Linked DNA regions of Homo sapiens. The protein of the gene in region 1 interacts with the protein of each later gene in a pairwise test. Each region holds a gene or a part of one and is shown in the gene's direction. Other genes may lie near its edges. The genes, in order: ZMYM6, NFYC, MAT2A and NRF1.

Evidence for each region.
Region 2: the proteins of ZMYM6 (region 1) and NFYC interact in binary tests that used the Homo sapiens proteins (3 or more experiments, as listed by UniProt).
Region 3: the proteins of ZMYM6 (region 1) and MAT2A interact in binary tests that used the Homo sapiens proteins (3 or more experiments, as listed by UniProt).
Region 4: the proteins of ZMYM6 (region 1) and NRF1 interact in binary tests that used the Homo sapiens proteins (3 or more experiments, as listed by UniProt).

Annotation. Positions count from the first base shown.
Region 1 is NC_000001.11:35,021,171-35,029,846, reverse strand, and holds part of ZMYM6 (zinc finger MYM-type protein 6), read left to right. Parts: intron 1-8,676. UniProt on the Homo sapiens protein: Plays a role in the regulation of cell morphology and cytoskeletal organization.
Region 2 is NC_000001.11:40,693,568-40,702,243, forward strand, and holds part of NFYC (nuclear transcription factor Y subunit gamma), read left to right. Parts: intron 1-2,038; exon of another isoform or gene 2,039-2,178; intron 2,179-8,676. UniProt on the Homo sapiens protein: Component of the sequence-specific heterotrimeric transcription factor (NF-Y) which specifically recognizes a 5'-CCAAT-3' box motif found in the promoters of its target genes.
Region 3 is NC_000002.12:85,533,350-85,542,805, forward strand, and holds the start of MAT2A (S-adenosylmethionine synthase), read left to right. Parts: upstream 1-5,818; 5' UTR 5,819-5,938; coding exon 5,939-6,029; intron 6,030-7,733; coding exon 7,734-7,811; intron 7,812-7,905; coding exon 7,906-8,028; intron 8,029-8,283; coding exon 8,284-8,396; intron 8,397-8,479; coding exon 8,480-8,623; intron 8,624-8,805; coding exon 8,806-9,024; intron 9,025-9,215; coding exon 9,216-9,398; intron 9,399-9,456. UniProt on the Homo sapiens protein: Catalyzes the formation of S-adenosylmethionine from methionine and ATP. The reaction comprises two steps that are both catalyzed by the same enzyme: formation of S-adenosylmethionine (AdoMet) and triphosphate, and subsequent hydrolysis of the triphosphate.
Region 4 is NC_000007.14:129,753,044-129,757,576, forward strand, and holds the end of NRF1 (nuclear respiratory factor 1), read left to right. Parts: intron 1-1,974; coding exon 1,975-2,138; 3' UTR 2,139-4,033; downstream 4,034-4,533. UniProt on the Homo sapiens protein: Transcription factor that activates the expression of the EIF2S1 (EIF2-alpha) gene. Links the transcriptional modulation of key metabolic genes to cellular growth and development.

The DNA of each region.
Region 1 (8,676 bases):
GAAAAGCCTAAAATGGGGAATCTGACCTAGTTTTGGTTGTGGTCTGCCTGGGGATGGCTAGGGAAGGCCTCTCTAAGGGAAGGATGTGTAAGCTGAATTATGAAGAATGAATTGATTAGGCAAAGGGTATGGAGAAGAGTATTACAGACAGAGGGAACTGTGAATAGGAAAGCCCTGAGTTGGAAAGATGCATGGTTCTTTTTAAGACCTGCAGGAACAGTGAGCCTGGAACAGAAAAGGTATGAAAATGGTGATGATGATAATGATTAAAACAACAACAATAAAAATAGCTGGCATTAGTATATCAGTATGTAGTATATATTATATCATAATCATATGTGACATTATTAACTTAATATTTATATATGCTTAAGAGTGTGTCAGGCACCATTCTTACCACCATATTATTATCCCCATTTTACAGATGAGGAAACCAAAGCTCAAAAAAGCCAAATAGTTTACCACAGATCACAGTTAGTAGTAAATGACAAAGACTGGATTCAAATCCAGGTGGTCAGACTCCAGAACTTGTGCTATTCTGCTTCTCTATGATAAGGCTGTATATATAGTTTAAGGCTGGATTATGTAGGACGTAGCAGACCTTGTTATAAATTTTGGTTTTTATCCTAAGAGCAGTAGATAGCCATTATAGGGTTTTTTGTTTTTGTTTTGAGATGGAGTTTTGCTGCAATGTTGTAATCTTGGTGGCTCACTGCAACTTTCACATCCCGGGTTCAAGTGATTCTCCTGCCTCAGCCTCCCCAGTAGCTGGGATTATAGGCGCCTGCCACCACGCCTGGCTAATTTTTTGTATTTTTAGTAGAGACGGGGTTTCACCATGTTGGCTAGGCTGGTTTCAAACTCCTGACCTCAGGTGATCCACCCACCTCAGCCTCCCAAAGTGCTAGGATTACAGGCGTGAGCCACCACACCTGGCCAATTGTAGGGTTTTAAGTGAGAAAGTAAGATGAAACAGATTTGTGTTTGGAAAGATCATTCTGGCTACCCCATAGGGACCCAGAATGGAGAGCACGGAAATCAATGTGGAGGCTGGGCACAGTGGCTCACGTCTGTAATCCTAGCACTTTGGGAGGCCAAGGCAGGCAGATCACGAGGTCAGGAGATCGAGACCATCCTGGCTAACACGGTGAAACCCCGTCTCTACAAAAAATACAAAAAATTAGCTGGGCGTGGTGGTGGGCGCCTGTAGTCCCAGCTACTTGGGAGGCTGAGGCAGGAGAATGGCGTGAACCCAGGAGGCGGAGCTTGCAGTGAGCCAAGATTGCGCCACTGCACTCTAGCCTGGGTGACAGAGTGAGACTCCGTCTCAAAAAAAAATAAAATAAAATCAATGGGAGAGATGAGTTAGTTGTTTTGGCAAGGAATTTTTCTTCTGGGACAGTTCTTTCGCTTTACACTCAAAGTTATTGACTTTATTGTATCAGCAAAGCAATTATATTTTAAAATAATAAAAAACAATTTTATTTTTCACACCATCTCACAGGCAGTATCATTCCTTTTTTTTTTTTGAGATGGAGTCTTGCTCTGTCACTCCCAGGCTGGAGTGCAGTGGCGCGATCTTGGCTCACTGCAACCTCCGCCTCCCAGGTTCAAGCGATTCTCCTGCCTCAGCCTCCTGAGTAGCTGGGATTACAGGTGTGCGCCACCACGCCTGGCTAATTTTTTATATTTTTGTTAGAGACTGGGTTTCGCCATGTTGGCCAGATTGGTCTCAAAACTCCTGACCTCAAGTGCTCTGCCCACCTCGGCTTCTCAAAGTGCTGGGATTATGGTTGTAAGCCACCATGCCCAGCCACAGGCAGTATCATAAGAAGACAGGGATGTCAGGTAGGTTTTGTTTCACTCATGAACTCTATGCCTTGCTAGAGTGCTGGGCTAAGAAGAGTTCTGAGGTAGTGTCTGTTAGATGTGGAGTGGGGGATGGTGGCATCCATGCTACTTGTTTTCCCTCCAGATGGTAAATTCTTACTCTTTCTCTGCCTAAAGTAACCATTTCTTTGCCAGGTTTTGTGGTTTTTAGCTTTTAAATATTTTTTGTATCTGACCCATGATGTTCTTCTATATTTCATTATTTCTCTCTCTCTTTTTTTTGTTTCCTTTTTTTGAGACAGGGTCTCACTTTGTTGCCCATACTGGAGTGCAGTGGTGTGAGTATGGCCACTGCACTCTAAACGATCCTCCCATCTCAGCCTCCCAGGTAGCTGACCACAAACATGCTCCACCACACCCAGCTAGTTTTTGTAGAGACGGGGTCTCCTTATGTTGCCCAGGCTGGTCCTGAACTCCTGACCTCAAGCAATCCTCCTGCCTTGGCCTCCCAAAGTGCTGGGATTACAGGCATGAGCCATCATGCCTGAACTATTTCATTATTTTTCATTTGGACTTTTATAATAGTTTCCTACCTATTCTCCTTCCTTCAGTCACATATCCCATCAAAACACTCTACAGTGATGCCATTGTACTGTATAGATCGAGTGATATTTCTCCCTTTAAAGACCCTGTTTCCTCCAGTGTGATGAAGCAAAGATCTTTCAATGTGACATCCAAACCATCCATGTTTAGGCCTTTGTTTCCCTCTCCAGTGTCATCATTCATTGTTTCCACCTTTTCAAATCTATGCTGCTGCCAGCTATTTGCAGTTCACTCAAAACTATCTTCTAAAACTCGGTTGCATTTTATTTCCCTGCCTTTGCACCTGCCATTTCTTGTGCCGGTGGAAGAAGAAATAAGCTAGGTAGGCTGGCAAAATTTTGTCCTCTTTTAAGATGAAGTTTCTCACTCACAAGTAGAATGAGCTGTTCTCTCTCTCTTTTTTTTAATTGTATAGTGCAATCACTTTTATTATGGTATCTACAGGTCAATGAATTTTGTCTTCATACTGATTATACTAATCTGGCCATCTCCTCCTCATCTTTCATTGACACACTAGACTGCAGTCTCTCTGAAGTCAGAAATTGGTCTTATTGACCTGAATCTCCAATTCCTAGCACAGGATTTGGCACAAAGTACATGTTCAATAATTGGAATAAAAGAGCCTCTTTCACATATAAGGAAGCTGAACCTGAAGGAATAAGTGACTTCACCAGTGTCTCATGGTAAAACTGGGATACAACAGTTTGTTGTTACTCCAGATGCAATATTTCTTTCATTATACCTTGCCTATACACTTAACAAATAATGTGCTTTAAGTTAATTCAATGTTCTTTCTGAATATAAAAATTGTGATAATGGAAATCTCCCTAGCAGCTTAGATTGTATATTTAAGAGGGTAGGAACTGCTCAGTTGTCTTTGGTTTATATTAATGTTTTCAGGTGAATAGGCTATATTTTTTCATGATTGAGGGTATAGACTATGATTGAAAAGCCAATTGAACAAATTGTGTATTATTTTCTATGTTGCATTGATGAATCTCCTTTGAATATTGGAAAATAAGAGATAAATAAAAATGTTTTTTATTTTCTGATTTTCTAAGAGTTTGTTCTGGATATTAAAATTATAGTTGAAGGCCAGGCGCGGTGGCTTGTGCCTGTAACCCCAGCAGTTTGGGAGGCTGAGGTGGGCAGATCCCTTGAGGTCAGGAGTTCAAGACCACCCTGGCCAACCTGGTGAAACCCTGTCTCTACTAAAAATACAACAATTAGCCGGGCGCGGTGGTGGGCGCCTGTCATCCCAGCTACTCAGGAGGCTGAGGCATGAGAATCACTTGAACCTGGGAGGCGGAGGTTGCAGTGAACTGAGATTGCGCCACTGCACTCCAATCTGGACGACAAAGGGAGACTCCATCTAAAAAAAAAAAGTTGCAGTTTAGTCCTTATATTCATATATGTTGAGTATTCATATTCATTCAGTGAGTTTTTATTCCTGCCTGCTGTAATCCATAATACTTGAACATTGTTGTGAGCAGTTTACATACCTTAATCCATTCGATGCTCACAACCCTCAGTTAAGTACTGTTTCTCTTCCCACTTTACCCATGAGGAAGCTGAGTCCTAGATAGTAACCCGTTAAAAGTCACATAATTAATAAATGGTTGAGTCAGGATTTGGACTCCAGCAGTCTGATTCAAGAGCCCAAACCCTTAACCAGGATGGTAAACTGTATTAGTTACTTTGTTTTCAGAAAGGCTACAGAGATGAAAAGATAGGACTTCTGCTCTCAAGGTAATTGATAGTGTAATGGAGAGAAAAGTTATGAGAATGAGAGAAGTAATATTTGTTGAGTGACTGTGCCTTGTGAGAAGCTATGCTAAGCATATCTTATGCATTCTCATTTAAACCTAATTGTCTTCAAACTTGTATGCTTTCTGCTGCTTTGTGCCACCTTTTTTTTTTCTTTCTTTTTTTTTTTTTTTTTTTTTTGGGATGGAGTCTTGCTTTGTAGCCCAGGCTGAAGTGCAGTGGCGCCATCTCGGTTCACTGCAACCTCCACCTCCTGGGTTCACGCAGTTCTCCTGCCTCAGCCTGCCGAGTAGCTGGGATTACAGGTGCCCACCACCACACCTGGCTAATTTTTGTATTTTTAATAGAGACGGGGTTTCACCATGTTGGCCGGCTGGTCTCGAACTCTACCTGCCTCGGCCTCCCAAAGTGCTGGGGTTACAGGCGTGAGCCACCGTGCCTGGCCTGTGCCACCTTTTGTGCAAATACAAAATCAAGGCCATGAGTGGTGGCTCATACCTGTAATCCCAGCACTTTGGGAGGCCGAGGTAGGTGGCTCACTTGAGGTCAGGAGTTCAAGACCAGCCTGGCCAACACGGTGAAACCACAACTCTACTAAAAATACAAAAAAATTAGCCAGGCTTCGTGGCACATGCCTGTGATCTCAGCTACTGGGGAGGCTGAGGCAGGAGAATCACTTGAACCCAGGAGGCGGAGGCTGCAGTGAACAGAGATTGCTCCACTGCACTCCAGCCTGGGCAACAGAGCAATATTCCATCTGAAAAAAAAAAAATACAAAATCACAGTCTTAGGTAAGTGCTTTAAAATTGTGTGAGGTGCATTGGGAGCATAGGGGAAGGAGCCCTAAATCTATATGGGAAGGAGAGGAAGGTTTCACATAGCAGGTAGCAATTGTATTATAAAAATTGACTAAGAGTTTCAGACAGAGAAAATATAGCAGAGAAAATAGCCACGTCATGGAGGGGTGAGAGAATGTGGTGTGTTTAATAGTTGAGTATCAACAATAAAGTGGGAAAAGATAATAGATTTAAAAATGGTTAGGTAGGATTGATCAAATTTAGAGATTGTTTATGGGTGTGAAGGTCAAAGAGGAGTCCAAGGATACTTACAGGTTTTGGGGTTTATGGTGATACCATTTACTGAGGGGTTAGAACAGGATTTTGGAGGAAGTACTAAGTGCAGTTTGAGGTCTGTTGTGTTTAAAGGGCTTGTGGGACATTCAAGTGGTAAACTGCACAAGGAGGCATTTGCACATAAAAATCTGGGATTTGAGATTAGAAAGTTATCTACTTGGAGATGTAGGGCTTCCAGATAAAATACAGGATGCCAGGTTAAATTTGACTATCAAATAAACAATGGTGATTTTTACTATAAGTGTATTGCTTGCAATACTTGGAACATAATTATTCTAAAATAGCACTATTTCAGCTATAGCTAAAAAGAAGGTTTCCTTTTCCTGTAAGATAGCAGGACAGTTTGCTGAGCAATTTGTAGGTAAGGTGGAGGGGGCTGAGGGATGTTGAGGGAGTTCTTAGTTACTTGTTTTTACCTGGTGCAATTGAAACATCAATGAGCAGGAAAGATGTGGAGTTGGGACTCGTGAGCTATGAAGGTTTAGAAAAATTACTTTGTGAGGTAAAAGAAACTGGTCAGGGAAATATAACAGAAATACTAGAAAAATTTTAGAAATTGAGTTGATAAGGCAAAGAAATTTTTATTGAATCTGGCCGGGCGCGGTGGCTCATGCCTATAATCCCAGCACTTTGGGAGGCCGAGACGGGCAGATCACGAGGTCAGGAGATCGAGACCATCCTGGCTAACACGGTGAAACCCCGTCTCTACTAAAAATACAAAAAAATTAGCCAGGCATGGTGGTGGGCGCCTGTAGTCCCAGCTACTCCGGAGGCTGAGGCAGGAGAATGTCGTGAACCTGGGAGGCGGAGCTTGTAGTGAGCCGAGATCGTCCACTGCATTCCAGCATGGGTGACAGAGCGAGATTCTGTCTCCAAAAAAAAAAAAAAAATTTTATTGAATCTTAAACACTCATTTTGGTAATTTGAAGATGTATATAATATTTTTAATGTCCTCTTCATTTTGCAAGTGTCAATAAATATTGTTATTTAAGTATAATGTTTAAGAACATGCACTTTGGATTGAATAGACTTAGATTCCTTCATTTAGCAAGTATTTATTAAATGCCAGTTATGAAACTAATAAATAAGTATGAGAACTAGCATTTTGGCCAGGTGCAGTGGCTCACGCCTGTACTCCCAGCACTCTGGGAGGCCAAGGCGGGCAGATCACCTGAGGTCAGGAGTTCGAGACCAGCCTGACCAACATGGAGAAACCCCGTCTCTACTAAAAATACAAAATTAGCCAGGCGTGGTGGCGCATGCCTGTAATCCCAGCTACTGGGGAGGCCGAGGGAGGAGAATCGATTGAACCCTGGAGGTGGAGGTTGTGGTGAGCTGAGATCCGCCATTGCACTCCAGCCTGGGCAACAAGAGCGAAACTCCATCTCAAAAGAAAAAAAAAAAGAACTAGCATTTTGTGTACATATCGTGCTTGCTTTTGACTAACTGTAAGATGTCATTCTGTATACCTTATTTATATTAAGTCATTTGCCCCCTCCCTCCCCGTTGGCCCTATGGGTTAGGTAATATTATCTTTATTTTACAGATAAAGAAATTGAAACTAAGAAAGATTAAATAGCTTGTTTAGGAGTCAAGATCATATCTGTTTCTGTCTGCTGTTAGAACCTATAGTCATTACTGTTATGTTGACTGTGTTGGGCGATTGGGTATACAGGGGTGAGAAAAACAGGTATTGTCCATAATGGATGTGATCTTTTTAGTCTAATGTGTGTGTAGGGGGAAGGATGAATGTTAAGCATTAATCAAATTATCCAAATAAGCAATGAAATGATTTACTATGGTAACTGCTGTGAGAGAAAGGAGATGGGAGAGACTACTGCAACAGGGGAACTTAATTTCAGTTGGACCAGAGTTTGAATTCATTGTAGTAATTACTTTATATTTTCACATCTATGACAGTGCTATCTTGGGTTTTAGAACAGAGAGACTGGCTGGGTGCGGTGGCTCATGCCTGTAATCCCAGCACTTTGGGAGGTGGAGGTGGGTGGGTCACCTGAGGTCAGGAGTTCAAGACCAGCCTGACCAACATGGTGAAACTCTGTCTCTACTAAAAATACAAAAATTAGCTGGGCATGGTGGTGAGTGCCTGTAATCCCAGCTACCCAGGAGGCTGAGGATCACTTGAACCCGGGAGGGAGAGGTTGCAGTGAGCCGAGATGGCACCATTGCACTCCAGCCTGGGCTACAGAGCGAGACTCCGTCTCAAAAAGAAAAAAAAAACAAAACAGAGAGACTGGGTTTGATTCCCATCTGTGCACGTAGTCTCTTTGTGACCTTGGGCAAGTTGCTGAACATCTCTTAGCTTCACTTTCCTCATCTATAAAGAAGGCATATCTTATAGAGAGCACCTCTTTGGGTGCTCATAATACATATCATGGGAAGTGGTGAATTAATGCAATGGTTCCTAGTTTTTGGCATTTAATAGTCTAAAGAAATTTCTAAAGTAACTTTGGAACTAACATAGCTACTCATTTATTTTGCTATGTGTGGAGAGATTAAAAATACAACTGCCATTTATTACCATCATTGATTCAGAAAAGTAAGACTTTTTAAAAAACTTCCTGTTTTGAAATATGTAAGGGTATTTTAACATTAAAAAAAAGGATGGTTGCAATTTCAGAATAAAGATAGGCATTTACATTTTAAAAATGTTTCATGATTACATTTTGTTTTAAAACGTTTTAAAGAATGTGGTAAGAATAAATAGGATTTTGTCTGTGATGATTTTATGTATAATGAGCAGATTGCATTGACACTCTTGTATCTTTTCTGCCATTAACAGAAAAGGCAGCTTGTAAATCTAAAATGATTGAAATCCAAACTCTAAATCATTCAGATTTAACTTTTCTTTTTTTCTTTTTCTTTTTTTTTTTGAGGCAGAGGCTCGCTCTGTTGCCCAGGCTGGAGTGCAGTGGCACAATCTTGGCTTACTGCAGCCTCCTCCTCCCGGGTTCAAGTGATTCTCCTGCCTCAGCCTCCTGGGTAGCTGGGACTATAGGTGTGAGCCACCACGCCCAGCCAGATTTAATTTCATTTATTGCTCCTTTTTGCCGGGTGCAGTGGCTCACACCTGTAATCCCAGCACTTTGGGAGGCCAAAGTGGGCGGATCACCTGAGGTCAGGAGTTCCAGACCAGCCTGGCTAACATAGCAAAACCCCTTCTCTACTGGAAAAAAACACAAAAATTCGCCGGGTGTGGTAGCGCAAGCCTGTATTCCCAGCTACTTGGGAGGCTGAGGCAGGAGAATCGCTTGAACCTGGGTGTTGGAGGTTGCAGTAAGCCAAGATCACGCCATTGCACTCCAGCCTGGGTGACAGAATG
Region 2 (8,676 bases), 5.7 Mb from region 1:
TGCTATTTTGGGGCATATTTTAACTCCAATAGGTAGGCATTATCGTCCCCATATTGCAGATGAGGAAACTGAGGATCAGAGAGTTTAAGTAGCTTGTCTGGTGTCACTCAGTAAGTGGTTGAGCTAGAATTCAAACCCTGGTTGCCTGATGCCAAAGCCTGTAATTTTATCTGCTACATCAGCTATCAACATAAACCTGACTAATGAAACTTCCAGATAATTTTGTATTTCCAAGTGGATCATCTACTTTGATTTCTGGGTGTTTAGAGTGTATAAAATGGAAGACTATAATTCTTAAGAATTTCTTGTGCTGCTTAAGGATTCAGACCACAGAATTGTAACCATAGAGAATATGGGTTCTTCAGCTAGGTATTCAAATCATATCCCTTGGCTTCTATTGTGAAAGGGAAGATTTACCAAGTAAATTGCTGCATTTTTTCCTGAATCCAGGTAGATAATGGGGAAAAATATGTACAGAAACTTGAAGAATCTGCATTCCTTAAAACCAAGCTTCAGAATATTGCAGATAGTCTTTCTGTATGTGGAGGTAATTTATGCCAAATGGCGAGGAACTACCAAGTGCCTAGTGTAAAGAGCTCACTGGAGAGGTTTTTCAAGCATCACCAGTTCCTTAGGGTGTCCCCAAATACCAGGACCTATTCAAAGGCCTAGTGCTTTCTTCAGACTGTGGGATATTGATTCTAGGATATGCTTATCCTGAACAATGTGTAAAATTAAGACTGGATAGGACAAAATATTTGCAGTTCCAATTTTGCATGGAAACCTTTAAATCAGGGTTTGAGAGGAGACCAGTGAGTTGGAAATCTTAATTGCTTTATGTCTTGATGTGCTTAGGTGAAGCCCTCCCTCATTTTTGTTTACAATAACGTTTCACTGTGGAAGATAGAGGCAAAGCTACAAGTGAAAATAGGGTTTGCCATGTATTTTGTACATTGGTCATTTCAGCCTCATTTGGCTCAGTCATCAAGTTAACCAAATATGAAGAATGCTGTAGATCTATAACTTAGTTTCGTTTTTAGTAAGACTAGACAAGGTGATAAAAATGAGTGTATATGTACACCTTTTTTTTTTCAGCAGGCATTTCTGGAGCAACCTGCCCTTCAACATTGGTGACCACCTTCATTCCATGTTAGCCCCTTATACCCATGGCCACCTTGTTAAGATCTGGAATTGACCACTCTAGAAATCTTGAACTCTCAGGAAATCTCAGTAGATCTGAGTTTATGTTGAAAACTTGTGAACCTCAGCTTTTTCTTCAGGCAGAAATCATACTAAGATTTATACTTTATAGGCTGTGTTCATGGCATCTTATTTAATTCTTATGACAAATCTGTTATCTCATTTATACTTACACATTTTTTTCTTTGGTCAGAACTACTAGAGACTGGGCGCAGTGGCTCACGCCTCTAATCCCAGCGTTTTGGGAGGCTGAGGCAGGTGGTATTTGAAGTCAGGAGTTTGAGACCAGCCTCGCACACATGATGAAACAAAATTACAAAAATTAGCCTGGCATGGTGGTGGGCGCCTGTAATCCCAGCTACTCGGAAGACTGAGGCAGGAGAATTGCTGGAACCCGGGAGGTAGAGGTTGCAGTGAGCTGAGATTGTGTCACTGCCCTCCAGTCTGGGCAACACAGCGAGACTCAGTCTCCCAAAAAATAAATAAAAATCCCAAAACTGTACTAGAGAAGATTTTACAAGGCATTTTTATCCCCTTTTATTTTCAGAGAAATGAAGGCAAAGCGAAATGAGGATTCATACCACAGAATTGTAAACATATATGGGCTAAACCCATTCTGTGCTATGGAGCTATGCTGGGAGTCTTGTTTTGGGTTTTGTTTTGTTTTGTTTTTTGAGAGTTTTACTCTGTCACTCAGGCTGGAGTTGCAGTGGTGTGATCTTGGCTTACTGCAACCTCTGTCTCCCGGGTTCAAGCGATTCTCCTGCCTCAGCCTCCCGAGTAGCTGGGATTACAGGTGTGCACCACAACACCCAGCTAATTTTTGTATTTTTAGTAGACACGGGCTTCCACCATGTTAGCCAGGCTGGTCTTCAACTCCTGACCTCAGGTGATCCACCCACCTCGGCCTCCCAAAGTGCTGGGATTATAGGCGTGAGCCACCGTGCCCAGCCAGGCTATGCTGGGTGTCTTTTTGAGGTAATTTTGAAATTTATATCTTTTAGTTCAAAAGTACTGAGCCACTAGGATCTGTGAATCAAACACAGGGATAATATAGTTACTACTTTTATTGAGTGCTTGCTTACATTGTACCAGCTGGGATATAAATGTATTATGTATATTTATTCTCATACACTATGAGGTAGATAATATAGCCACCCTCATTTTTACGTGTGAGGAAACTGAAAAGTAATTTGCTTAAGTTCTCACAGCCAGTAAGTAGCAGAGCCCAGATTCAGACACGGATTTGTAATTCTGTTTTTTTTTTTTTTTTGAGATAGAGTCTCGCACTGTTTCCCCAGACTGGAGTGCAATGGCGCGATCTTGGCTCACTGCAACCTCTGCCTCCCAGGTTCAAGCGATTCTCTTGCCTCAGCCTCCTGAGTAGCTGGGATTATAGACGCCCGCCACCATGCCTGGCTAATTTTTTGTATTTTTAGTAGAGACGGGGTTTCACTGTGTTGGCCAGGCTGGTCTCAAACTCCTGACCTCGTGATCCGCCCTCTTCGGCCTCCTGAAGTGGTGGGATTACAGGTGTTAGCCACAGTGCTCAGCCACAGATTTGTAATTCTTAATTCTTATGTAAATGAAGCCCTTACTCTTAAACACTGTGTTGACACCATAGAATGTTATGGGAAAAGAAAAAAAGTCCTGGCTTCTTAGCTCAGGAAGCGAACTTCAGTTCTTTCAGGCGTGTCCTTTGTACTGAGGCTCCAAAAGAGTGAGATGACCTTGACAGGGTCACTTGGCTATGCAAGGGCAGAGCCAAATCTTGCCCAGATCACTGGATTTCCAGATAGGTGCTCATTCCACTGGATAGCATTGCCTCTCCTGTGGACGCATTGACTTGATGGCAGAGATGACTTTAAGTGACAGGTTTACTTCATTCACCGGAATGAGAATGGCAGAGGACATTACTAGGGTCACAAATGACCTTCTTAAGGTCAATCCTGGCCTCAGGCATACAACCAGGAAGAATATTCCTTTGCCAGTAAGTTGTTCTTTTCCATTCTGTTTCTTGTTCTCAGAGGAAACTGGTTGTGAGTTATCTGATGTCTTACAGTCTTTCTTTTCATTTTGTTTATTCAGTTTTTCATGCATGCACTGTCACAGTTTAGGAAGGCTACAAGGTCATTTTAGTGTTTTCCTGCAGAGACTCAAAGCACTCAATATAATGTAAGTAGATTAATTGCAGGAGGAAATGGATTTTTAAAACTTTGGCCAAAAAGTGCCTATGGGAGAGGACAGTATTAGTTGCTGATTGGAGTCAGACCAAGGGAAGAGTTCTGTCTCTGCAGTGCATTTACCCTCTGTGCTGGAGCAGGTTCTTAACTTGTTTCTTCTTCTGTAAAATAACGACAATAATACCTACCTGTAGGGTAATTATGAGAAATGAATATAATAGCGTGTGGTAGATGCCTATCACTTAGTGGACCTTAATAAGTGGGAGAACACATTTTCATTTTGGAACAGCATGAAATCTGTCCTTTCAGCCCGTTACAGCTTCCTTGATGAGGAGGGGTGAGGCCTTTTGTAATTGTCTGCTCTGCAATATACAGTAAGATTTCCAAATGGGAGAGCAACCACTTGACATGAAGTAACCTAATTTAGTTGTGCTGTTGTGGTTTAGGAGCTGATTTTCAGTGGACCAGTGTGAGGTCAGTCTTACTTTTGAATGCACAAAGTAGTAGGATCATTTGTTTCAGGGAAAGATTGTTTCCTGATCTCTTTTGTTCATCCCCAAGTGTTGAGTGGTAATGATTGCGATGCGATGAAAACTTCTTCATATTTGACAAATAGCAATGATGATTAAATTCGGAACAACTGGTGTTTTCATTCTGACCAGAAGGAGAGATTTCCATTATAGTCATTTAAAATTTTTCTAACTGTACAAATTATCAGTTGAAGTAGGACCGTTGGTTTGGTTTGTGTGATTTGTAGTCACTTGAGTAACGTTTTCTTTGAAGTAAGCAGTTAGACAGTATTGTGGAATGGTTCAGGAAAAATCTCTCTGCCTGCAGAAAATTTTGCTAGGTTGCAGGAATTGTTGCACCCTTCCCACACTTCTCCATGTGTTAGCAGTGATGTACCTGATAGCAGTGAGACAGCACCTGTACTCATTTTCAGTATTGGAGTTGTATTTTCCATTTTGTTATTTTCAGATCTCCAGATAGATTACTTCTACATCCAGTACTTCATGAGAGCTTTCTATTGTATAAACTTGTAGTTTAAAGAGTGGAACTAGAGTCTAATCTTTGCATTTGAATGTTTCCAGTAGAATACGTTTAAAATAAAGGTTGAAATATCCATGTCTGGTCAGGCACAGTGGCTCACGCCTGTAATCCCAGCACTTTGGGAGGACGAGGCTGGCAGATCACCTGAAGTCAAGAGTTTGTGACCAGCCTGGCCAATATGGTGAAACTCCGTTTCTACTAAAAATACAAAAATTAGCCAGGCATGGTGGCAGGCACCTGTAGTCCCAGCTACTCAGGAGGCTGAGGCAGGAGAATCGCTCGAACCCAGAGGCGGAGGCTGCAGTGAGCTGAGATCATGCCCCTGCACTCCAGCCTGGGTGACAGAACGGGATTCCCTCTTTGAAAAAAAAAAAAAAATTCACGTTCAAGGTACTATATATAAGGTGTCCTATTTAAATGAATGCCATTCATTCATTTATTTATTTGCTGGAGTCTTGCTCTGTCGCCCAGGCTGGAGTGCAGTGACATGACCTCGGCTCACTGCAACCTCTGCCTTTTGGGTTCAGACGATTCTCCTGCCTCAGCCTCCTGAGTAGCTTGGGACTACAGGTGCGTGCCACCACACCTGGCTAATTTTTGTATATTTTGTAGAGACAGGGTCTCATCTTGTTGGCCAGGCTGGTCACGAACTGCTGACCTCAGGTGATCTGCCTGCCTCAGCCTCCACTGCGCCCAGCCTGAATACCCTTCATTTAAAGCCAATAGTATATCCTTTGCCTCCCGGGTTCAAGTGTTAAAGTCAATTGTATATTCTTAATAAGATTCAATAATTGTCCTATTCTTAAATACATTCATGAGTATGAACCATAAATAGTGATCTTGAGCAGTGTTTCAAAGTGTTTTAATAAGAGGAATGAGATGGGCCGGGCGCCGTGGCTCACACCTGTAATCCCAGCACTTTGGGAGGCTGAGGCGGGCAGATCATGAGGTCAGGAGTTTAAGACCAGCCTGGCCAACATGGTGAAATCCCATCTCTACTAAAGATACAAAAAATTAGCTGGGCGTGGTGGTGGGCCTCTGTAACCCCAGCTACTCGGGAGGCTGAGGCAGGAGAATCGCTTGAATCCGGGAGGCAGAGGTTGCAGTGAGCCGAGATCGCGCCTCTATTGCACTCCAGCCTTGACGACAGGGTGAGACTGTCTCCAAAAAAAAACAAAACAAAACCAAAAAAGGAATGAGATGACTCATAGGAAATGATGTTAGAGTATAGAATATTTTGTATCATGTCATTGGCTTAAATCTGAAGTACTGAAGGTTTTCACAATCCCAAATTACTGTTGCCCTTGGCCTCCAGAGCTGTAAACTGTCCAGTAATCTCTATGAAGTTGAGATTCTTTGCCCAGTGTTAAGAAGATATATCCCTTTGACACTGGCATGATCTGTTCCTTTTAAAAGAGAAGAGAGAAGGGGCTAATAAAGTACACATTATCTGCACAGTTGACATCCTTGTCATTTTAAACTGTTTTAAAAATTATTACTGTACCCTGAAAGTAAGTAGCATAGAATTTGCTCATTATGAAATGACGAAGTTGGGGCCTTTTAAGAAGCCAAGAATGCTTGGTTGGCAATCACTTAGGAGGCAAAGGATTGCTATTTATGGTGGTATTTAATGTCATTTTCAGTAGTACTAAGTTAGAAAGGAAAACGCCATAATGTGTGTAAAACTCTAACCATTTTGGAAGGTTATCAGAATACAGTTGCCTATAGTCTTTTCACTCCACTAAAATTTGTAAGTTGGTTTAGAGTAGCATTTCCCAAGCTCTTCCACTGAACATTAGTTCTGTGTAGTGCTAATCAGTGTCCTTTGGGGATAAAAAGAGGATCCTTGACAAAAAATGGCCAAAGTGAAATGCCTTTCTTTACTGCAGAATTATTATTCAGAGCCTTGGTGCTTATTTGCCTATGACCCTTCAAGAGGGAAGATACATTACGCGGTGTTACTCAGACTTACTTGGTCATGGACCGCTGTTTGTGAGAACACCTAATAAACGTTTCATGCTATGACTGGTGTGTAGTGGAGCCCAGTTGAGCAGTTCTGGTGTAGTCTATGAATAAAAAAATGAATCATTTTGTATAAGATAGCTTGGTAATCGTGGGAAAGGACTTTTCTGAGAACAAGATACATCTTCAAGGTAACGTAGACTCTTAAGGATGAATGTGATTTCAAAGGTCATCTAATCCAATGCCCAATAACAATAATAATAGTAGCAGGTACCATTTTTTGAGTACATGCTTTTTATCAAGCACAGTGTTGTTATTCTACATGCCTTATTAACCACTGGGTCTTAGTGATTTTTGAATCTTCTTTATTTTTTATTTTACTTTAATTAATTTTTTTGAGATGGGGTCTCACTTTCTTGCCCACGCTGGAGTGAGGTGGTGTGATCATAGCTCAATGCAACCTCAAACTTCTGGGTTCAAGTCATCCTCTTGCCTCAGCTTCCTGAGTAGCTGGGACTACAGGGATGTAGTACCATGCCTGCCCAGCTAATTTTTTTATTGTTAGTAGTGAGGAGGTCTTGCTATGTTGTCCAGGCTAGTCCCAAATTCTTCAGTTCAAGTGATCCTCCCACCTTGGCCTCCCAGAGTGTTGGGATTACAGGTGTAAGCTACCGTACCTGGCTTATTTTTTATTTTTTGAGATGGAGTCTCACTCTATGAGGTTCAAGGCTGGTCTTGAATTCAAAAAAATTTGTTTTATTTTTTAATTTTTAATAAACTAATAAATGGACGTTAAGGAGATGACAAATTCTGAATTATTTGCTTTGTTGTCCAGGCTGGTCTTGAACTCAGTGTCTTCACTACTGCATCCAGTCACCAGATAACTTTAGCATCCTGTTTTCCACGTTAGTGGTCTAGAGTGCTGCCATCCTCCCACTGTGTCCCCTTCTCCAGCTTATTCTCCACACTGTACCCAATGGTAAGGAACTAAACAGTCTTAAACATGGGGCTGGGAAAATCAGAATTACACTTTAAACGTGGGACTGATTGTGCCAGTCCAATGTTTAAGACGCATTAGTTCCTTATCATTGTCCTTAGAATAAAGTTTTAGTATATTAGCTTTGTCCAACCCTGTATACCTTTCTTTTTTTTGAGAGAGAGTCTCGCCCTGTCACCCAGGCTGGAGTGCATTGGTGCAATCTTGGCTCACTGCAACCTCTGCCTCCTGGGTACAAGGGATTCTCCTGCCTCCAAGGGATTCTCCTGCCTCAGCCTCCTGAGTAGCTGGGATTACAGGTGCCTGCCACCATGCCTGGCTAATTTTTGTATTTTAGTAGAGATGGGGTTTCACCACGTTGGCCAGGCTGGTCTCAAACTCCTGACTTCAGTTGGCCTCCCAAAGTGCTGGGATTAAAGGCATGAGCCACTGCGCCCGGCCTACCTTTCTAACTCTACTTCTAGCTTCTTGCTTCTGGGCTGCTGCTATACCAAACAGGAATGTAATACTTTCTGTCAGCTTCAGGCCTTTGCACATGCAGTTCACTTTGTCTATCTTGGTTTTTATTCTTAGGATTTTAATTCTCCTAAGAAGCTTTCTCTGACCAGCCTAAAACTTACGTAAGCCCTGGGTTAGGTGCTATGCTTATGTCCTCCCATAGCATTTTGCATTTGCATGTGTTGTAACTCTTAATGTACAGCATCATGATTGCCTATTTTAACTTTCCTGTTTGTTACAGTAGACTTTAATCTCTTTAAGGACAGGAACTGTGTCTTGTTTAGAATCCCCAGAGCTTATTTAGTACAATGGCTATGCTTATAATTTAAGTATTTATTGAACAAATGAAATTTTCCTAAGCCCTAAAACCTTGCAAGATGTTTTAGTGCAGGAAACTGGCCTCGATGGAGTTGAATAACTAGCACGAGGTCACTCACCTAAAAAGTGGTGAGGAGGGATTAAAATCTAAATCTGTTTAGCTGTAAAGATTGGGCTTTTTTTCTTGCTGCTGCACATGACTGCTCTCTCTCATGTTGCCTTTACACATCCCTGTCAAGTGTTCAAACAGCCCGTGCCTAACAACCCCATCCATAGCTTCTGAGGAAAGTTGTGTCATCTTTGGACAGCTCTGAGAGCTGAAGCGAGTCTTTGCAGAATAATTTCCCATCTATTGGTCTTAATTTATGCTTTGGAGAATATAACTTATTTTCAAAAAACAAATAATTCAGAATTTGTCATCTCCTTAAGGTCCATTTATTAGTTTATTTCATTCCTTCATTCACTGAT
Region 3 (9,456 bases), on another chromosome or scaffold:
CTAATTTTTGTATTTTTAGTAGAGACGGGGTTTCACCATGTTGGTCAGGCTGGTGTCAAACTCCTGACCTCAGGTGATCCACCTTGGCCGCCCAAAGTGCTGGGATTACAGGCGTGAGCCACCGCACCGGCCCTAGCAAGGATTCTTAACTTGCAATATATGGTTAAGTTTCAGAAATTATACATAAAATGTTTGTCCATGTGTGTGTGTGATTTCTAGGGAGATCCATAGATTTTGTCAGATATTTAAAAAGTTTCAAGTCACTGGGGTACAGGGGGCCGGCACTTCACTACAGCAGTGGACCATGTGTAGTATATTTGCAGGTTTTGAGCAATTTTATCAACCAGGTACTTGTCCAGCAAGGGTCACTGTCTGTGCAGCTACCGGACCACCTGCAAGGAGAGCAGATGACAGCATTCCCACGTATCTCCTGCCCCTAGAGTAAAGGTGAAGATCCATACAGACCACAGTCATGGTACCACCTCCTCTTTAGGTCTGATTAATTTGCTAGAGTGTGCCGGGCACGGTGGCTCATACCTGTAATCCCAGCACTTTGGGAGGCGGAGGTGGGCAGATTACCTGAGGTCAGGAATTCAAGACCAGCCTGGCCAACATGGCAAAACCCGGTCTCTACTAAAAATACAAAAATTAGCAGGGCATGGTGGCAGGCGCCTATAATCCCAGCTACTCGTAGGCTGAGGCAGCAGAATCACTTGAACTCAGGGGTGGAGGCTGCAGTGAGCTGAGATCTCGCCACTTCACTCCAGCCTGGGTGGAAGAGCAAAACTCTGTCTCAAAAAAAAAAAATTTTTTTTTTCCGCTAGAGTGGCTCATAGAACTTAGGGAAGCACTTGCTCATTTTTACTGGTTATTTTAAAGGATACAAACAAACAGCCAGATGAAGAGATACATAGGGTGAGGTCTGGGAGGGTCCCAAGTGTAGGAGCTTCTGTTACCATGGAGTTGGGGTGTGCCACCCTCCTGGCACGTGGATGAGTTCTTATTCACTTTCCTGTCAGCCTCCACCTGTTCAGCTCTCCAGAAACTCTCTGAACCCAGTCCTCTCAGCATTCTTTGTCCCAGGGTATGGGGTAGGACCCTCTCTGGAATGAGGGTCTTATGACCCATGATCAGAAGGGCAGGGCAAGATTAGAGTCCTGCCTTGGGGCAGGTGAAAGAGAAGCAGGAAAAAGTCAGAGAGATTCTGTTTCCTGAGGCCTGCTCCTGAGTCCTAACACTCTCAACATTATAACGAAACACTGTATAACAAGGGCTATGGGAGTTATGAGCCAGGAACCATGGATAAAAACATATATAAATTCACACATATATTAACATCACATCTATCAACGAGGTTGAGCATTTTTTTCATATGTTTATTGCAATTTGCATTTTCTCCTTGGTGAGCTACCTATTTTATGTTGTATATATTTTCCCACAGTAAAAGAGAAGGAAATGATTTACAGCTCTACATAGTATCCTGGAGAGACAGTCATGAAAATTGTTAAGAAAAAAAAAATCCATGTTTCTCTGAATAGTAAGATGTGTGCGTGTGTGTGTTCACAGAAAAAGGAAAGGGAGGATATAAACCAAATTGTTAATATTAACGACCTCAGGGAGTATGCAGTATTTATTGTTTGGCTATAAGAAGGGGCATGAATTTAGAGGTCAGACCAGGCTCAAGGCCCTAGCTCCACTACTGATTTGATGTGTGACATGGACGAATAACATGCCAGTTTCTTCATCTGTAAAACAGGAAGAGAAATAGAGCTGTTGTGAGTAGTAGATATTACAACAGTGCCTGTCACAATAAAGTGTAGCTATTGTCATCATATTATTATCTCCTTCAGTGTCTTCTTCACTGTACCATATCTATTCTTCCATTCAGGACTTCTTTATTGGGACTGTAAAAAGATTTAAGTATCAAAAGAGAAAAACATAGAAATAAAAACAAAATACAAAAAGCCTAATAATGAGGGGGTTCACATAGTACTTGTTTCTGATCCCACTAGAACTAGCTTGCCTCTGAGGCCATCCGAGATATCTAAGCTTTGGCCCTAAAGAACTGCCACAAATTTGGAGACGTGGCCTACATTTCTTTCTTCTTGGTCTGTCTTCACATAGAAGGTGCTCTTAAGACACACAGCCTAGGAACCTCCTTCTCAACACCTCCACACCTTCACTTGCTCTTTGCTATCCCTACTGTCACCCTCCTCTTTTCTCCTGCCACATCAACAGCTTCTTGCACTGCAAATGTTTTCTGGAACTCTCCCCATGACTGACAGGCTAATAAGGAGTTATTTTATTTGCTGTTTGAGTCACAAATACCATTTTTATCCAATCCCAACTTTGCCTTTTTTGTAGGGTTACTGCTACATTAATGTTCTCTGGCTTGAGAAATCTGAAGCCTTTAGGCAGTGATTAGATTTTTCCTACGTGCTTTACAACACTTCACATTCAACAAATTCATTAACGATAAACAGGAAATAAACCAACAATTTCTCCTGGTTTAGTTCACCCTTAGGACACGCATCTATGAAATCAGAAATCTTATTCCTGTCAGAACAGGATGGCCATGTGCTTCCCTGTTAACAAAGAAGTCTTAATTTTATTAATTACAATGCTTACGACTAAAACAAAGCAGGACCTCTTTCCATTGATTTCACATGATCGCCAGAGTCTCTCATTTCTCTGCTTCCTTCTGCCATCTTTTTTTTTGAGACGGAGTCTTGCTCCGTCGCCCAGGCTGGAGTGCAGTAGTGCGGTCTCAGCTCACTGCAAGCTCCACCTCCCGGGTTCACATCATTCTCCTGCCTCAGCCTCCCAAGCAGCTGGGATTACAGGCGCCCGCCACCACGCCCAGCTAATTTTTTGTATTTTTAGTAGAGATGGGATTTCACCGTGTTAGCCAGGATGGTCTGGATCTCCTGACCTCGTGATCCACCCCGCCTCGGCCTCCCAAAGTGCTGGGATTACAGGCGTGAGCCACCGTGCCCCGCCCCCTTCTGCCATCTTTATATTCGTTCATTTTCCGTTTCCTTCCCTTCCTTTCTTGTCTCTCCCTCTTGAACATTTCTAAGCACCTTGTGTGTGCCAGGCATTCAGTAACAAAGCTTGAGCAAAACAGCCCACCTTCTCATTATCATGGAGCTTACAAGCCTAACTGGGAATTGGAGACATTCATCAAATAATCACCAAATCTATAATTTGAAACTGCACTTAGTGCCATGAAATAAAACACAGGCCCCTGTGACAAATCTGTGTAGATGAAGGCTTCATCCAGGAAGTGGTAGCTGAGCTGGAGTGAGAAGGATAAGGAGTTAGCCAGGCATCTCCCCACATTTAGAGCGCCGAGTGGGCAGAGACCAGGATTGTTATAGCATTTGCTCCTGGGTCTGACTCACAGATGTGCTCATAAATATTTGTGGAAGGGAGGAAGGGACAATACGAATAATATAAAATAAATGAAAATGTGTCCTCCTTTGTTTTGATACTATGAAATTAATAAAATTAACTGCTACTAACTAAAAAATCCAAGTAGAACACAGAAAGGAGAGTGTGGCACAAGGTAAGGTTGCAGAAGTAGCAGCCAAATCACACTGGGGCCTTGAGTATGTAGAGATTTTAGTCCGTATCCCGACAGCAATTGAAAGCCACTGAAAAGTAATTCACAGCAAATATAGTTAATTTTTTTACAGCTTACATTAAAACAAATTATGTACTAGATACTGTGCTAAAGACTCTACTTGCACTATTTGAATCCTTGAAACAATCCTATGATGTACTATTAATATTCCAATTTTACAGAACGAGGATACTGATGCATAGAGAGGTCGTGACTCCAAACCCCTACTCTTACTGTATTACACCTACACACTATTCACAAGTGAGAGAAGTAGGTAAGCAACTATGTACAGCTAAATCTCATCTCCTTGGCAGGCCTAGCCCCACTGTGGAGTTGGTAGCACAGGGGTATCAGGATTTAATGAGCCAATCATTGACTTTACGCTCCTTGTTCTGACTCCCTAATAAAATAACCTTCTAGTTATATTCTGGCTTCCCATATAGATTTTTCTGCTGGGAGATAATGCACTGACCAGCCTACACACGCATTTTGTTCCAGTTGACAATTTTATTACACATTGTAAGTTAATAAATTGGCATTCTCCTTTAAAAAATAACAAAAAAATTTAATAGTCTTATACAGTTACTTTCCCATGAAGGGTTAGCTTGAAAAGTAAAAAGCAACGAATAAAAATATCATCACCTATTGTCTCTTTTGTGGTCGAACCTTTTCTTGCTGCCTGCTTTGAGCGACCGTGGATGTGGTCACTGAGTCTGGGGAGGAGCCCTTTATCTTCTTTGTGGATGCCCCCAGCACAGCCCAAGTGCTTCCTTTGTTTCCCACTGAGCCTTTAGCAAATCCCACCTTTCCTCCTGCACCGACGGAGAGGATTGTTCTTGGGAATGCACCTTGTTCTACTGCCGCCAGCAGTAGGCAGCTGGAGACTGTTACTAGGGGTCTCCTTCACCTCCCCAGCGTAAAGTACATCCCATGCTAGGAGCAGGCCGTTCCCTGAGAACCTCATTAAACCCGGCGTTCTTGTCACGCGCTCCGCTCAGGGCCACCAGGCCACCAGCCCGACCAGACCTGCACCGAGGCCCAGCCCCAGAACAGGCTGCAGAGACCCCCGCCCCCAAGGCGGGCTCCCTCCAAACGGGACTCCATACTCCTTGCTGGCTCAAGTTTTGTTTCGCTCTTTTTCCCTGTAATTCCTTTATTGGGCAAAACTGGGACAAACGCAGGTGGACATTTTAAAGTGAAAGCTTCATGAAACAGCCCATTCCACGCCGTCAAGAGATCTGCTTAAGCACATTCAAGGGAACGAATAGCCCCCACCCACCAAAAAAGAAATGTTCGTTCCATATTCTCCTGAACAGAGGATTGAAACATCGATTCCCCCCCCCTTCAAAGGAACAGGAAGGCCACGGGGCAAGGACGGACTTGGGAGCGGCCTCCTTTCTCTCTGGAGGGAAAGGCTGGAGCGCTGCCTCCACTTTTAAGTCCACGAACCACGAAGGGTGAGGATCCCTCAGAAACTTTAGCGCAGGGGAGCGGGCAGGAGGGCGATTGTTTAAATCGATGGCAGCACCTTCATTAATCTGCTTTCCGGCCATCTTCAGCAGAGCCATTCACCAGGAAACGACTAGAAGGTGGGCCTGCGCCCCTCAGATATCCCGGGGCCGGCAACGAGCCGGGCAGGGACGCCGAAGGAAGGCCGTGAGGAGCCCTCGCTGGCCGGCCAAGATGGCCACCTTCACATGGCCGACCGCCACCGGCTCCCTGCCACCCGGCATCTAGAGGCGGGACGGCCAGAAAGACCCCAGCCGCAGCACAAAACCTCCGCGATTCCCGCCGCCTCCGCTGGGGGACGCGACCTCCGGGAAAGCTATCCCGGCCAACGGTCGGAAGGGAGGTGCCATGTCACCGCACAGGGGAGCGGGTCCAGCAAGCCCCAGTCGCTTTTTCTCCCACATCAAACAAGGAAGAGCAATCCCCCACGTCTCCTCGCGTCTGCATTTTTCTCCTAGCTCTAGCGGCTCAAGATAGCTGAACGGTCTCTGGAGGGCCGGATTGCCACGGCACCTCCCGCGGCCGCGCAGTGTGGTTCAGCCCGGACTCCGCGGGGCGAGCTGCCCTTCCTCCCCCGACCCCCGCGCAAGTGGTGCATTGGCGCGCGGCGCCGAGGGGCGGGGCCCGAGCCGGGCGCGCGCGGGCGCTGCTCTATAAATACCGGGCCGCACCGCCCGCTGCTTCGTTCGCTCCGCGCCGCCCGCCTGCTACGAGTAGAACGCTGTCCGCAGCTTGCGCATTTCGCAGCCGCTGCCGCCTCGCCGCTGCTCCTTCGTAAGGCCACTTCCGCACACCGACACCAACATGAACGGACAGCTCAACGGCTTCCACGAGGCGTTCATCGAGGAGGGCACATTCCTTTTCACCTCAGAGTCGGTCGGGGAAGGCCACCCAGGTGAGGGGACGGCCTGAAGCGAAGCGTGGGGCGGGGCAGAAGGCAGCGCCAAGGTCCGGCTGGCTGCGGCCGGCCGGTGGTGGGGCCCGCGCGGGTCGTCCTCGTCCGCCGGGTGATGGAAGAGCGGCGACCGCGCGCTTTCCTCGTGGCGCCGCCAGGGCCTGGCGCGTGGCCGCCGCTCCTCTTCCCCCTCCCCTCTCCACCCTTCCCTTCCCCCCTCCCTTTTCATTCGGTCGCGCGCCTAGGCATGCGGAAGGTTCCAGAAAACGTGAAGGGCGGGGGCTGTGGTCGCTAGTGAGTTCTGGCCGGGAAGGGAGGGCACTGTTAACCCCTCCCGGCCCTGCCGTCTGACAAACCTGGAGTGGGCGACCCGCCCCGCGTGCTCGCGTCCGGCCCTCGGGAGCGCGCGCCCCGCATTGCAGCGGCGACCACGTGTTTGCCGCATGTGGTATCTGGGCGAGGGGGAGCCGTGAGCCTCCCCGGCTGTCCTGGCCCTCAGTTTGAGGGGTGGGGGGCCTATGCCTTGGGACGTCGTCTGGCTCCACTGCCTCAGTGGTTAGGTCTTGACTACACACTGGAGAATACGCACATGCCCTTCGGCGGATATGGCCTTGCCTCCAAGGTGACGGCCTCTGACTAAATATAGCTCATGTCCAAGAAGGCAGTCCTTATTTGGACCCCTTGTGAAAAGGATGGGAAGCATGAATTAGGAGCTGCCATTGCTTTGGGTTCGCATTTAAAGTCTTCGGTGCAGGGTTTTACTTGAGGCTTTGTCCGCTCAACCGCCATTATGGGGATCAATTGGCACGTGAAGGAGGAGTAAAGCTATATTTCCAGGAACTGAAAATCTCAGCCTGAGCATATCGGCTAGTAAAGATGATTATTTGGCTCTTTTGGCTGTTTCTGCCCTTAGGATGACCGCAGTAGTTATCTATCTGGTGGCTTTAGGGTCTGGTCAGTTTACTGTGCCCATGATGAAATCCCACAAGTAACTTAGTGGTATGAGAGGACAAACCCAGGATCTTGATGAGTGCTGAAGGTTAGCTGTTACACCAGTTAGTAGTAGACCGAAGTTCAGAGCCTGCAGTCTGGCTTCCACATTATGTTTGGATTCTGTTTTAGGCGGTTATAGAAAATTCAGAAAAACGAACTTGAATTAGGGAGATATTTGTTCTCCCTCCTAACAATAGATGACAAAGCAGGGAGACATGGATTCGGAATACGTTTGAGCATCTTCTACACTGTTGAGCTTTTGTTTCCTGCGCAACTCCTAACAGCAAAATCAGATAATTGCCATTTTAGTCAGAAAATGCTTTTCATTTAATTGTTTAATCGAATTATCTTGTTGCTCATTATAATTGGTGTTCCTTAAGATTAGGGAAACTGGCCTACCTGTGGCCTCAGTTCTACCAGACTCCCAGGTGCAGAGGGGTTTGGTACAGTTGTGGAAGTGAATATGATATAGGGCAAATTCTGTTCTTTAAAGGATATAGGACTAACAGTTCACCTTTCTGGTGATTAGATTTATAATGCAAACTTTGAATTTTAGGAGGAAAGTGCAAACACAATGAATTAAGATGTATTAAGCATGTTTTTTAAAATCTCCAAAGATTTTACAGATAGTAACAGGGAGGGAGCTTGCATACATACATACATACTTTGTTTAAAGTTAAAGAAACTGAGCCAGGAATTTCTCTTTTCCAGATAAGATTTGTGACCAAATCAGTGATGCTGTCCTTGATGCCCACCTTCAGCAGGATCCTGATGCCAAAGTAGCTTGTGGTAGGTTCAGAATGTGCTTATCAACTGGTGGAAAGATAGCATAAAAATTATTTTTATAGAAGTGATGTTTGAGTTGAATGTCTCTTTTTATTAGAAACTGTTGCTAAAACTGGAATGATCCTTCTTGCTGGGGAAATTACATCCAGAGCTGCTGTTGACTACCAGAAAGTGGTTCGTGAAGCTGTTAAACACATTGGATATGATGATTCTTCCAAAGGTGTGTTTTAATGATTTTGCTCATTTTTTTCTAGGTAACAGCTGTGAGGTTTGAAGAAACTCCTAGAATGTTCCTGCTAATCCTAAACTCCAGTTGTATCTTACTATACACTAAGCCCTATTCTGTTCATTCTCTAAAAGGTCCGATGGTTTAGGTATATTTGATTTCTTCAGCAGTGTTTAGAATTCCAGATAATTGCTGTAAACAGCAGGTATTTCTAGGACGTAAACAAGATGTTGTGTTTTTTGCTTATAGGTTTTGACTACAAGACTTGTAACGTGCTGGTAGCCTTGGAGCAACAGTCACCAGATATTGCTCAAGGTGTTCATCTTGACAGAAATGAAGAAGACATTGGTGCTGGAGACCAGGTATCTTGGTGTAGAGGCTGTTTTAATCTCTTCTAACATTAAATTCTGGAGCTTGATCACATTGGTGACTTTTCTTTCTTTAGGGCTTAATGTTTGGCTATGCCACTGATGAAACTGAGGAGTGTATGCCTTTAACCATTGTCTTGGCACACAAGCTAAATGCCAAACTGGCAGAACTACGCCGTAATGGCACTTTGCCTTGGTTACGCCCTGATTCTAAAACTCAAGTAAGTGATGATCATAAAGCTTGGTTGTCTCATTTATTACATCAGCACAGAAGATCCATAATTTTGATAATAGCTAACTGGAAAAAATAGCATTTGTTTTCCTATATTGTAACTTCAGGTAGAGAAACAAATACAAAGTTATTGTTTGGTGTGATGTTCTGATGACCTGTGTTGCCTTCAAGGTTACTGTGCAGTATATGCAGGATCGAGGTGCTGTGCTTCCCATCAGAGTCCACACAATTGTTATATCTGTTCAGCATGATGAAGAGGTTTGTCTTGATGAAATGAGGGATGCCCTAAAGGAGAAAGTCATCAAAGCAGTTGTGCCTGCGAAATACCTTGATGAGGATACAATCTACCACCTACAGCCAAGTGGCAGATTTGTTATTGGTGGGCCTCAGGTAATGTCATTTTGTTGCATTTTTCTGGATTTTTGATGGTTACTTAAAATTTTGGCTACTACATTTTTTTCAGGCTTTCTGAAACCTACATGTGAATCATCGGAGGATATTTGCTGAATGAATTCAGAATAGGCAACCTAATCCACTTGGAAAGCACTAGGCGTAAAGTAACTTAAATCCTGTAATTTCAGGGTGATGCTGGTTTGACTGGACGCAAAATCATTGTGGACACTTATGGCGGTTGGGGTGCTCATGGAGGAGGTGCCTTTTCAGGAAAGGATTATACCAAGGTCGACCGTTCAGCTGCTTATGCTGCTCGTTGGGTGGCAAAATCCCTTGTTAAAGGAGGTCTGTGCCGGAGGGTTCTTGTTCAGGTATACACTCTTTATATAACGAACGATTAAAAGTCATGTAAGTGGGAGGGTATTTAGT
Region 4 (4,533 bases), on another chromosome or scaffold:
AAATGCTTACCCCTTATCCCTAAACTGGCAAAACTTACTCTTAGAAAAAAGTTACATACAATTTAACATTGGAAAAGAAAATCTTATATTTGATTTTTTTTGCATTAGAAAATATTTTGACAACCCTTTTTAAAATAATTTTTATCTTCATCAAAGTAGCCTATGGTTTAAATGTCAAAAAGAACTAAAAGGGGCCTCTCTGGGTCAGTTTCTCAATACAGTGGGTGAACCTCAGAGGCCCAGTCAGCAAAGGTCTTTGGGTCTGGATGTTGGGGTTGGTCTAATCAATTAAATTCAAACTTTCCACTCATTCTCATTTTTAGCCTCATCCCTCTTTCTGCCGTAGCTAGGCCTCTATGTGCTGAGCCCTGTGTGAGCATAGGAGTTGCCCCTTCCACTTCTCTGTTCAATCAGAACCATTTCACATTTGCTTTGCATCTTCCCAAAAAATGTTGACATCCCTCGGTTATATCCTTTTTTCCTCATTCACTGTAATTCTAGTTTCAGAAGGAAGAGAGATTGATGTATATGTTAGTTACTGCCTTACTGGGAATCCTTTTTTTTAATGTATTATCAGCTTTCCCTTTTTAGGCAGGACTACCTTTATGGAGGTTATGTGCTTCTTCCTTTAAGCCATCCTTTCTACTCTGAAATAATAGTGATATTAGGGAGTAGCTGGGGTCTTTTTTTTTTAAGTTGACCCCAAAATGTGTTTTTACATTTTACTGGTGTGTGAAATCTAGAAATCAGGAAACAAGTGACCTAGGCTTTAAAAATAAATAAATAAATAAAATAAGCTTGACTATGAAGGAAGGCACATAGACGGAGCAGTGGCCAGAAGACAGGATAGGAGAGGGACAAGATTTTTCTTTTCAAGCTGAGAGAGACTTAAGCATAGGCAGAAAGAGGGTTGAAGAAGGCAGTGTAGCCAAATATCAAAGAAAAATAATGGTGGCCTGTTCTGAGAGGGAGAAGACAGGCCGGGGACATTCACACCTGACGGGCCTGTGCTTCCTAGATGCGGAGGCAGGCAGGGCCCTCTCACGGCAAGCTGGGAAGGCCCTACCCTAAGGCATGTTTCCACAATTTCTCTAAACTTTTCTTTTCTGATAGTCTGTTTTAAAAAAATCAAAATGGTCAGGGTTGGTGGTTCACGCCTGTAATCCCAGCTATTCAGGAGGCCAAGGTGGGAGGATCACTTGAGGCCACGAGTTCAAGACCAGCCTGGGCAACACAGCAAGACTCCATCTCAAAAAAAAAAAAAATTATATTAGCCAGGCATGGTGGCACACGCCTGTGGTTCCAGCTACTCAGGAGACCGAGGTGAGAGGATCACTTGAATCCAGGAGTTCGAGGTTGCAGTGAGCTGTGGTCACGCCACTGCACTCCAGCCTAGGCTACAGAGCCAGACCCTGTCTCTTAAAAAAAAAAAAAAAAAAAGTTAAAATGGAAAAAAGTTGATTTCCTAGAAGTAGAGAGTAGAATAATAGTTACCAGAGTCTGGGGAAGGGTTGGGGAGGGGGGCAGGAGAGGTTGGCCAGCAGGTGCAAAGGAAGAATAAGTTCTGGTGTTCAGTTACACAGTAGGGTGACTGTAGCGAATAACAATGTAGTCTGTGTTTCAAGATAGCTAGATTTTGAATGTTGTCACCACAATGAATGATAAATCTTTAAAGAGATTAATATGGTAATTTTCTTGATTTGATCATTCTACAGTGTATACATGCATTGAAACATCACATTGTACCCCATAAACATGAACAGTTACTATATATCAATTATAAATCTTAAAAATTAATGAAAAAAATTTTAATGGGGTGGGAAAGAGATGTCTTTGTGCCTGGGCCATGGGTATGTGATCACCTGAGGCTGGTGACCACGATACCTCAAAGGCAAGACTTGGGTGCCCCCGTCCAGCCAGCATCTGGGAACTTGAGCCTGAGCCCCACCAACGGTCTTCTCTTTGTCTCTCCAGGCCTGGTCCAGATCCCTGTGAGCATGTACCAGACTGTGGTGACCAGCCTCGCCCAGGGCAACGGACCAGTGCAGGTGGCCATGGCCCCTGTGACCACCAGGATATCAGACAGCGCAGTCACCATGGACGGCCAAGCTGTGGAGGTGGTGACATTGGAACAGTGACATACAGCCATATTATGGCATCGTTTTCTAGTCTACTTCAAAATTTTTTACACGTTTGCAGAGGTGCAATCAAATGGAATTAAGTCTCTCGACTTTGGAAGGAAAGTTTTGTTAACCTTTTTTTTTTTAAAAGGAAGAAAGCGGATTTTGGAATTGCATTTTTTAAAGCACCACTCTTGATTTTCTGGGATTGGTGAAGAAACTGCATTGTCAATTTCACTGTCCCAAAAAAGCCAAATTGTGGCAGGACTTCTTTCTGCGGAAATGTGTGTGTATACTTATGTGTGTGTATGTGTGAGTGTGAATATATGTATATGTGTACATATGGACATACACATTTACATATATATAAAGTATATATATACATATATATATATATATATGTATGAAACCCGCATGGAATTATCTGTATGAAATCAAGGTGCGCTGTGGAAACAATAATTCACCCAGTTTAGTGGGTGGTAGGGTACGTGGCCAGACACAGTCACCCAGTTTTTGTTCATACCAGGGTCATGCGTTGAGCTACTGACAAACTCAGGCGGAGGTGACCATGCCCTTCACCAAAGCTGCCTCCCAGTGGCCACACAGAACTCTCCCTGCTGGACTCACCTGAGGAAAGAGGCTCCAGCATGGGGTGGGTCAGAGATGTGCTTGCAAGGTCCAGGGACTGCGTGGTCTGCCAGCTGAGATGCTCCTCGGGCTGGCCCAGGTGCTGACCTTGCCACAGGCAGATGAATGTCTTGAAAGCTCCCGGGCCTCAGCCTCCCATCTCCTCTCCTTCCCAGGAATCCTTGATCTCATGACTATTAAAATGTTGCTCTGGTTTTAAGGTCAGTCCTGAATTGCTCGTATATATGAACTGAAGGTAACCGAAGTATTAGGGGTTTGAGGAGTGCGTGCGTGTAAGTGTGCTTGTGTGTGTGCGTGCATGGTGGGGGAGAGGATGGGAAGGGGGCGGGGGCAGTGGAAGGGAAAGGAAGGAAAGAAAAATCGTCCTAGACCAGGATACACCCGTGGGAGCAATTTTCTCTACTGTCTGTAGCTTCACAGAGGAGGCGCTGGAATGAACAAGAAGAGACATCTGGTCTGTGGCCACAGCACCCTGAACGCCCCTGATCTTGTGTGATCTTGGAAGCTAAGCTTGGTTGGGCCCGGTCAGTACGCGGAAGGGAAGAAGGGACACCTGGCCATAGAAAACAGCTGAGGGTGTTTGCTGTGTTCCTGGATCAGGCCCTGCTTCAGAAGGGACTCCTGGAGGCCCATGTTCCTTGATGCAACCTCGTGGCCCAGGCCGGGAGCAGCTTGCCTCCTCAGAGGTGTTGACTATCTGGGTGTTCTTGGTAACCGTTAACTCTGTCTTTCTCAGCTGCAAGCCCTGAGTCTCCAGTAGCTGAATTCACCTGACTTTTCAACAGGCCAAATCTCTGAACCTTGAGTACAGGGACAGCTCCTCCTCCCTCCTCCCAGCTCTCCCCATGTGTGTGATGGTGTATTTAATGTGTTTTTTTAATGCGACATTAAAAGATTCTCCACGTCTTGCTCAACCTTTGAGAGAAGTTTCAGATTCTTGTATTTGCTTGTTTTATATAAAACTATCTAATGTTCTTTATATGTTCTTTTCTGTACGTAATGGGGGGAGGGGAGGGAAATTTACATATAAATAGTCCTAGTTCTACAATTTGTTATTTTTTTAATTATTATTTTTTATCGTCATTGTGAAGTTGTCCAGGGACTTTAAAGTCCATGTTCCTTTGTGGTGAAATAACCTCCAAATAGTTTGAGAAGTTGCCAAGACGAAGAAAAAAGCAAAACCCCAGTAGCAGAGCATGGATTCTGTGTTGTTTCCCATTCTGTCTTTGACTGCCTCATTCAATAAATAGTTAAAAATGTGGCAACAGGAAGTGGAATTGTTCATCTCTATAGGAGCTCTTGGCTTCTTAGGCAAAAGGAACTCTATCTTGGGGCAGCTCGTTCTGCGTTTAAAATGCAGTCCTACTCGAGATCAGCGGTCTCCGACCTGTGCCACTCCGACGCTGGGGACCTCCGTAAAGAAGACACTGAAGATTGCCCAGAGCCCCCTGCGAGCCCCATCACCAGACCTGCTCCATTTCATACATTTCATATATAACGTGTTTTCTTATACTGACGTTCTGGGGAAAAAATCGTATTTAAAAAATCCTAGGCCGGGCACAGTGGCTCCCGCCTGTAATCCCAGCACTTTGGGAGGCCAAGGTGAGTGGATCACTTGAGGTCAGGAGTTCCAGACCAGCCTGGCCAACATGGTGAAACCTTGTCTCTACTAAAAATAGAAAAATTAGCTGGGCATGGTGGCGGGCGCCTGTAATCCCAGCTATTCAGGAGGCTGAGGCAGGAGAATCGCTTGAACCCAGGAGGC